Regions from separate parts of the Homo sapiens genome. Here region 2 is linked to region 1. Evidence: fine-mapped expression QTL. A gene starts in region 1. The other region holds a variant in brackets. All regions are shown on one strand. Distances are between the middles of the regions.

Region 1 (4,395 bases):
GGGCATCAGGGAAAGTTTCTAAGAAAAGCTGAAGGTTGAGTTAACTCTTGAAGGATGGACAGGAGTTAACCAGGCAAAAGAGCTAAGAAGGTCACTCTAGGCAGAGGAAGAAGCATGGAGACTTTGAGAGGCAACCATCTCTGGGAGAACTAATTTTGGTCACTTTATGTGGATGGTGAGAAGGATAGGTGTAGGGATGAAGCAAGAAATACAATGAGAGATGTGCTTAGGGGCCAGTAAGCAACATAAATACCATGACAAGAACAATGGACTTTATCCTGAAGGCAAAGGGGAACTACTGAAGAGTTAAAATAGGTTTCCTATACAATCAGATTTGCATTGTAGTAAAATCACTCCAAAAAGAGATGAACTGGAACTGAAGAGCCTAGAAGTGAAGATATCAACAGCAGGTTTCTCTAAGAGTCCCAATGAGGTACTGACTGAGGTTTGACTTTGAAGCTGAAGTCTGGGGAAAGGTGTTAAGAGGTAGAACTGTCAGGATCTCGTGATTGTTTGGATATGAGTGTGGCACAAAGGGGTCGAAGATGACTCCCAAATAGGACTGGCTATATAATTTGTGGGGCCCAGGGGGAAAAGAAAATGTGGGGCTCACTGTTTAAATCTCAAGCCCAGGACAGCAGAACATTAAACCAAGTGCAGGTCCTTCTCAGCTCCCTTAAAATGGCCTTGGTCCTAAGTTTCTGGCTAGGTTAAACAAGTGAATGGATGGTTGTAGCCTTTTTAATAGTAAGTATGACAGAGTCCAGTTTTGAACATTTTTGAGTTTGAGGTGCCTATGGAAAATTCAGTTAAGTTCAGGGCTGGAGACGTAATGCGTAAATTTGAAGTGGAGACTGAGTAACGGATCAGACTGCCCCACTTATGTGTAAAGCAAAAATAGAACCAGATGGAAAAACAATCATCTGAAACAGAAGCTGATAACTTAGGCGGGAAATGAGGAAAGCCAAGGCACAATTTAAATACCAACTCCAAGAAGTTTTGTCTCCTTTCAGTTTCACTCATTCCTCTATGTTTTATTTTACTGTTACAAATCTGCAGCCTGCCTATTGTCTTTAGCTGATTTTTTCTGCATGTATTTGGCTGTATGACTTTAAGCTCCTTGAAGAGAGATTTTACGTCTTTTATCTTCAGAATGAGCCCTCCAGTGACATATATCTAATAGGTCTCTAAAAAGTTAATTATCTAAGAAAATCGTTCCAAAGGTCAAAACTTGACTCATTTTTTTCAACAATGTTTTAGAATGAGACTTTTTAAAGAGAAACTACTATAATTGTTCAAAGGAAAAGTAAGTTAGGTAAGGGGGAAAGTTACTGAAAATTATCTGTATTACAATAAATCACCCTAGCGATTACGTGTATGTATATATTAACACACACACATATGCATGTACATGTATGCATACGTATAACTAGATTTTGGGGGGATGAGGAGCCTTTTAAACCATTCTAAGTTACAAGTTTACAATGCAGGTCAGGAAATCTTGGATAAATCATTTTTAAAAGTGAACAGGAGATAGTTTTAGACTGGTGACTAAATCTTCAAAAACCAAAGCGTGAGGGGAAATCTGGGATGTCTGCATATTGGAGATGGCAGAAACAAAAAACAAAGATGGCAAGCTGACACCGGGGCAACAGCTGACCCGTTTCTTGTAAGAGGAGCCTTCTCGCTGGGGCTGCGGTTATTTTTATCCAAATCTCTGCTGGCGGCTGAACGGGGTACGTCCCTGGCACGTCCCAGCGCAGGCTTCCAGGCTGGCTCGACCGCCTCCCAGGCTCTCCGGAAGGAGACCCCTCCTCACCCCCTCCGAGGATCAGCCAGGCCGGGCCGAGCCCGAGGCCGCCCCTGGCTCCTGGTCCCTAGCTTGTGCCAGCATCCTCGGCGGGGCACAGCTCCTCCCGCCCCGCCCCGCCCCGATCGGCCCCGCCGAACCCAGACCCTGCGGCCCGCGCCCCCCGCACCCCCGGCCAGGGCTCCCGCGGGCCCAGCCGGCAGGACGCGGCCTCCCCCGCTCCTCCAGCCCGCGGCCGCGGCGGTACTCACAGACCTGTTCTGCAGCCGCCGCCGCCGCTGCCGCCATCTTCCCGCGCCCGCCGCCGCCGAGCTCCCCGCCCGACTGTGCCCGCCCCTCCGCGACCGCACCCTGCGCGCCTGCGCTTGCGCCCTGGCGGGGACTGGGGGCACCCGCTGCTCACACCCTCCCCTCCCCAGCCCGCATCCCTGACGACCCGCATCCCAGCCCTGCGGGCTCAGGCTCTGCGGCGGCCCCTGCACCTAGGACCTTGGCCTGGGGCGCGTTGTATTGCACAGGGGCCAGAAGGGGCCTATGGGGATTCCGCTCCACCCCGGGCCGCCTGCAGATTCCTCAGAAAGGGCACCCTCAAAAATCGAGGACGCTTCTCCCCTTCCCCTTTGTTCCCCATCGCTGAAAGATCGGTGCCATCCGGAGCTGTGAGGCTCTCTTTGTTTCTCGGACCAAGGTCTCCTTGGCTAGGGTGGGAGGGGCCGATATCGAGACCACAAGTGGACGCGGACCGGCGTGGTGACTGCGTGGGCAGAAGTGAACGAGTGGTCACTTAGGTGGCTGGAGTCTTGAAGACTGAGAGTCCTCAAGGAGGACGTTGAATCCTTCGGGCTGCTTGACTTCGGAGGCCTATGAAGTCTGATGTTTTTATCCTGCGATACTGGGGATGGATTTTTCATTTAGTGTTGGAGATAGTGTTACCATGTATATCCTCGGGAACCTAATTGAACGGACATTTACTGAACACCGGGAAGCCACTCAAATGTACGAGTTACTTGAGTAGACATTCATTGTTCCCTGTTGTAGATATAATCCAATAATTATTTTAGCTGAAAAAAAATGCAGTGAAGTCAATAGCAACTGTTCCTCATGTAGCTGAATCACTTCTAATAAGCACCTTTGGGCCCTAGTACTGTCTAATTCAGTGGGAGTCAGTACCTAGCTGGTCATCAGTCTCTCTGCATTTCTTTTTTCCTAAATGCTGGAACCACTTGACTCATATCTCTAGACTCACTCCTCTCTGAGTCTGTGGGACAAACATGCATTTTAGGCAGGAAAATTCTAAGTTAAAGCCCAATGATGCAGGAGTCAGCAGTAAGGCTCTGTGTTAATATTCTGCCTGTGGTCTCATTGATCAATTTGCACAACTGGGCTTTTAACTGATTCTGAGTTCCTATCTTCTAGTCCTTAATTCCTAAGCTTTGCGTTTTTCTCTCTGCTGGGAAAGTTCTTCTTCCCTGGCACGCGCACTCTTATTCATCCTTCAAGAACTATTCTATTCAAACGTCATATTTTCTCTAAAGGCTTCAGAGGCTCCCACAGATCTGTTCCTTAACTGTGTGCCTAGCCTTTTCTAGCACTTCAGATTGCATTGTATTTTTATCTTGTCTACCTGCTGATTTCATTCAAAAGATGGTGTGTTCTATCTGGAAGGTAGGTGTCTTACTCATCGTTTAATCTCCAATGTCTAGCACAGTAATTAAACTTAATAGATATCTTAGAAATCTGCCCAGTATCCCAATTTCTAAGCCCTGACTTGATTTTGCCAACCTCCCTCCCACTTAGGTGGTGAGATACCTGGTAGCCAATTTTCCTGAAACCAAATGCTCCTTTGGCTATTTGAATATCACCTTCTCTTGGATTCTTTCCTCATCGCTGATGTCCATCTCTGACAGGACATCCCACTATTCTTAATGCCAATTTCTATTCTCTTTTAAAGAGATCCAATTCACTCACATGACCACATTTTAATGTGGGTTATTTTCAAATGTACTATTGTCAGCCTTTTTTCCCCTGAAATAATGACATTTAAAGTCAACTCTGTGCCTGGCAATGCCTCTTTTACAAATGAAGAAATCAAGGCTTGTAGAGGTTAAATGGCTGACCATCTTTTCAACTCCTAAAGAGCCAGTATTGAATCTAGGTCCATCTGACTAGTCTTTGCTCTTTCTACCATACATCACAGCCTTTAATTTTGCTCTTTCTTTTGACTGTTGCATGATATTAGCATTTGGAAGCACAAAACACAGGTCCCCAGGGCTGGAGTATGAGTCAGATTATGAAGACACTTACACCTTTGTTCACTTTGCAGTGGTTTGAATAGTGCCCTGCAAAAAGGCATATCCAAGTCCTAACCTCCAGTATCTGTGAACGTGGTGTTACTTTGAAACAGAGTCTTTGCAGATTGCTATAGAATGAATGTTTGTGTCTCCCCTGAATATTTCACATGTGGAAATCTTAGCCCCCAGTGTGATGATATTAGGAGGTAGGGCCTTTAGAAGCTGACTTAGTCCACTTTGTGCTTCTATAACAGACCATCTGAGAGTGAAGAATTTATAAAGCACAAAAAATTA
Region 2 (4,395 bases), 350 kb before region 1:
CAAGCGCTTTCAGGCCTATGGTGAGAAAGGAAATATCTTCGAATAAAAACTAGACAGAAGCATCCTCAAACTTATTTGTGATGTGTGTCCTCAACTAACAGAGTTGAAACTTTGTTTTGATACAGCATTTTGGAAACACTCTTTTTGTAGAATCTGCAGGTGGATATTTGGATAGCTTAGAGGGATTCGTTGGAAAGGGGATATCTTCATATAGAATCTAGACAGAAGCATTCTCAGAAACTTATTTGTGATGTGTGTCCTCAACTAACAGAGTTGAACCTTGGTTTTGATACAGCATTTTGGAAACACTCCTTTTGAAGAATCTGCAGGTGGATATGTGGATAGCTTTGAAGATTTCGTTGGAAACGGGAATTTCTTCATATAAAATCAAACAGAAGCATTCTCAGAAACTTCTCAGTGATGTTTGCATTCAGTTCATGGAGTTGAACACTTCCTTTCATAGAGCCGGTTTGAAACACTCTTTCTGCACTACCTGGAAGAGGACATTTCGAGCGCTTTGAGTCCTATGGTGAAAAAGGAAATATCTTCTCATAGAAACCAGAAAGAAGCGTTCTCAGAAACTTCTTTGTGTTGTGTGTACTCATGTAACAGTGTTGAACCATCCTTTTGACAGAGCAGTTTTGAAACACTCTTTTTGTAGAATCTGCAAGTGGATATTTGGATAGCTTTGAGGATTTCGTTGGAAACGGGTTATCTTCATATTAAATCTAGACAGAAGCATTCTCAGGAACTTCTTTGTGATGTTTGCATTCAAGTCACAGAATTGAACATTCCCTTTCATAGAGCAGGTTTGAAACACTCTTTCTCTAGTATCTGGAAGTGGGCATTTCAAGCGCTTTCAGGCCTATGGAGAGAAAGGAAATACCTTCAAATAAAAACTAGACAGAAGCATTCTCAGAAACTTATTTGTGATGTGTGTCCTCAACTAACAGAGTTGAACCTTTGTTTTGATACAGCATTTTGGAAACACTCCTTTTGTAGAATCTGCAGGTGGATATTTGGATAGCTTTGAAGATTTCGTTGGAAACCGGAATATCTTCATATAAAATCAAGACAGAAGCATTCTCGGGAAACATCTCTGTGATGTTTGCATTCAACTCAGTAGAGTTGAACACTTCCTTTCATAGAGCAGGTTTGAAACACTCTTTCTGCACTACCTGGAAGCGGACATTTCGAGCGCTTTGAGGCCTATGGTGAAAAAGGAAATATCTTCTCATAAAAACCAGAAAGAAGCATTCTCAGAAACTTCTTTGTGTTGTGTGTACTCAAGTAACAGTGTTGAACCTTCCTTTTGACAGAGCAGTTTTGAAACACTCTTTTGGTAGAATCTGCAAGTGGATATTTGGATAGCTTTGAGGAATTCGTTGGAAACGGGTTATCTTCATATAAAATCCAGACAGGAGCATTCTCAGAAACTTCTTTGTGCTGTATGTCCTCAATTCACAGAGCTGAACCTTTGTTTGGATACAGCATTTTGGAGACATTCCTTTAGTAGAATCTGCAAGTTGATATTTAGATAGCTTTGAAGATTTCGTTGGAAACGGGAATATCTTCATAGAAAATCTAGACGGAAGCATTCTCAGAAACTGCTTTGTGATGTTTGCATTCAAGTCACAGAGTTGAATATTCCCTTTTATAGA[GT/G]AGGTTTGAAACACTCTTTCGGCACTACCTGGAAGTGGATATTTCGAGCTCTTTGAGGCCTATGGTTAAAAGGAAATATCTTCCCATAAAAACTAGACAGAAGCCGTCTCAGAAACTTGTTTGTGATGTGTGTATTCAACTAACAGAGCTGAACATTTCTGTTACAGAGCAGTTTTAAAACACTCTTTTTGTGGAATCTGAAAGTGGATAATTGGATAGCTTTGTGGATTTCGTTGGAAACGGGGTGACGTATAAAATCTAGAGAGAAGCATTCTCAGGAACTTCTTTCTGATGTTTGCATTCAAGTCACAGAATTGAACATTCCTTTTCATAGTGCAGGTTTGAAACACTCTTTCTGTAGTATCTGGAAGTGGACATTTCAAGCGCTTTCAGGCCTATAGGGAGAAAGGAAATACCTTCAAATTAAAAACTAGACAGAAGGATTCTCAGAAACTTATTTGTGATGTGTGTCGTAAACGAACACAGTTGAACCTTTGTTTTGATACAGGATTTTGGAAACACTCCTTTTGTAGAATCTGCAGGTGGATATTTGGATAGATTTTAAGATTTCGTTGGAAATGGGAATTTCTTCATAGAAACTCAAGACAGATGCATTCTCAGAAACTTCTCTGTGATGTTTGCATTCCACTCATAGAGTTGAAAACTTCCTTTCATAGAGCAGGTTTGAAACACTCTTTTTGTAATATTTGGAAGTGGACATTTGCAGCGCTTTGAGGCCTATGGTGAAAAAGGAAATATCTTCTCATAAAAACCAGAAACAAGCATTCTCAGAAACTTCTTTTTGATGTGTGTACTCAAGTAACAGAGTTGAACCTTCCTCTTGACACAGCAGTTTTGAAACAATCTTTTTGTAGAATCTGCAAGTGGATATTTGGATAGCTTTGAGGATTTCGTTGGAAACGGGATATCTTCATATAAAATCTAGACAGAAGCATTCTCAGAAACTTCTTTGTGCTGTATGTCCTCAATTAACAGAGTTGAACCATTGCCTGGATACAGCATTTTGGAAACATTCCTTGAGTAGAATCTGCAAGTTGATATTTAGATAGATTTGAAGATTTCGTTGGAAAAGGGAATATCTCCATATAAAATCTAGAGGGAAGCATTCTCAGAAACTGCTTTGTGATGTTTCCATTCAAGTCACAGAGTTGAATATTCCCTTTTATAGAGCACGTTTGAAACACTCTTTCTGCACTATCTGGAAGCGGACATTTCGAGCGCTTTGAGGCCTATGGTGAAAAAGGAAATATCTTCCCATAAAAACTAGACAGAAGCATTCTCAGAAACTTGTTTGTGATGTGTGTATTCAACTAACAGAGTTGAACTTTTGTTTTTACAGAGCCGTTTTAAAACACTCTTTTTGTGGAATCAGAAAGTGGATATTCGGATGGCTCTGAGGATTTCGTTGGAAGCGGGATTACGTATAAAATCTAGAGAGAAGCATTCTCAGGAACTACTTTGTGATGTTTGCATTGAAGTCACAGAATTGAACATTCACTTTGATAGAGCAGGTTTGAAACACTCATTCTGTAGTATCTGGAAGTGGACATTTCAAGCGCTTTCAGGCCTATGGGGAGAAAGGAAATATCTTCAAATTAAAACTAGACAGAAGCATCCTCAAACTTATTTGTGATGTGTGTCCTCAACTAACAGAGTTGAAACTTTGTTTTGATACAGCATTTTGGAAACACTCTTTTTGTAGAATCTGCAGGTGGATATTTGGATAGCTTAGAGGGATTCGTTGGAAAGGGGATATCTTCATATAGAATCTAGACAGAAGCATTCTCAGAAACTTATTTGTGATGTGTGTCCTCAACTAACAGAGTTGAACTTTGGTTTTGATACAGCATTTTGGAAACACTCCTTTTGTAGAATCTGCAGGTGGATATGTGGATAGCTCTGAAGATTTCGTTGGAAACGGGAATTTCTTCATAGAAAATCAAACAGAAGCATTCTCAGAAACTTCTCAGTGATGTTTGCATTCAGCTCATGGAGTTGTACACTTCCTTTCATAGAGCAGGTTTGAAACACTCTTTCTGCACTACCTGGAAGAGGACATTTCGAGCGCTTTGAGTCCTATGGTGAAAAAGGAAATATCTTCTCATAGAAACCAGAAAGAAGCATTCTCAGAAACTTCTTTGTGTTGTGTGTACTCATGTAACAGTGTTGAACCATCCTTTTGACAGAGCAGTTTTGAAACACTCTTTTTGTAGAATCTGCAAGTGGATATTTGGATAGCTTTGAGGATTTCGTTGGAAACGGGATGACATATAATATCTAGAGAGAAGCATTCTCAGGAACTTCTTTGTGATGTTTGCATTCAAGTCACAGAATTGAACATTCCCTTTCATAGAGCAGGTTTGAAACACTCTTTCTCTAGTATCTGGAAGTGGGCATTTCAAGCGCTTTCAGGCCTATGGAGAGAAAGGAAATACCTTCAAATAAAAACTAGACAGAAGCATTCTCAGAAACTTATTTGTGATGTGTGTCCTCAACTAACAGAGTTGAACCTTTGTTTTGATACAGCATTTTGGAAACACTCCTTTTGTAGAATCTGCAGGTGGATATTTGGATAGCTTTGAAGATTTCGTTGGAAACCGGAATATCTTCATATAAAATCAAGACAGAAGCATTCTCGGAAACATCTCTGTGATGTTTGCATTCAACTCAGTAGAGTTGAACACTTCCTTTCATAGAGCAGGTTTGAAACAC

Direction of the effects. Alleles are on the strand shown, and positions count from the first base shown. SD is a standard deviation of normalised expression in the study named.
As copies of GT replace G in region 2, the expression in fetal neocortex of the gene that starts at base 2,138 in region 1 goes down (moderate effect, 0.63 SD a copy in Walker 2019).

The links. PIP is the estimated chance that this variant, and not a neighbour inherited with it, causes the effect.
Region 2: its variant is the best candidate, but not a certain one, in a credible set for the expression of SGCB in fetal neocortex (Walker 2019, PIP 0.65).

The regions. Positions count from the first base shown.
Region 1 is chr4:52,036,162-52,040,556 of GRCh38, forward strand. SGCB (sarcoglycan beta) reads right to left here and starts at 2,138. Exons shown (of 6, transcript NM_000232.5): 1 at 2,066-2,138. The coding sequence starts at 2,098. RefSeq lists an enhancer at 1,551-1,670 and a silencer at 1,911-2,350.
Region 2 is chr4:51,681,641-51,686,035 of GRCh38, forward strand. No RefSeq gene overlaps it. Among named protein-coding and RNA genes, the nearest start is that of DCUN1D4, 160 kb to the right of the region's middle. The variant GT/G (reference allele first, on the strand shown) is at 1,662.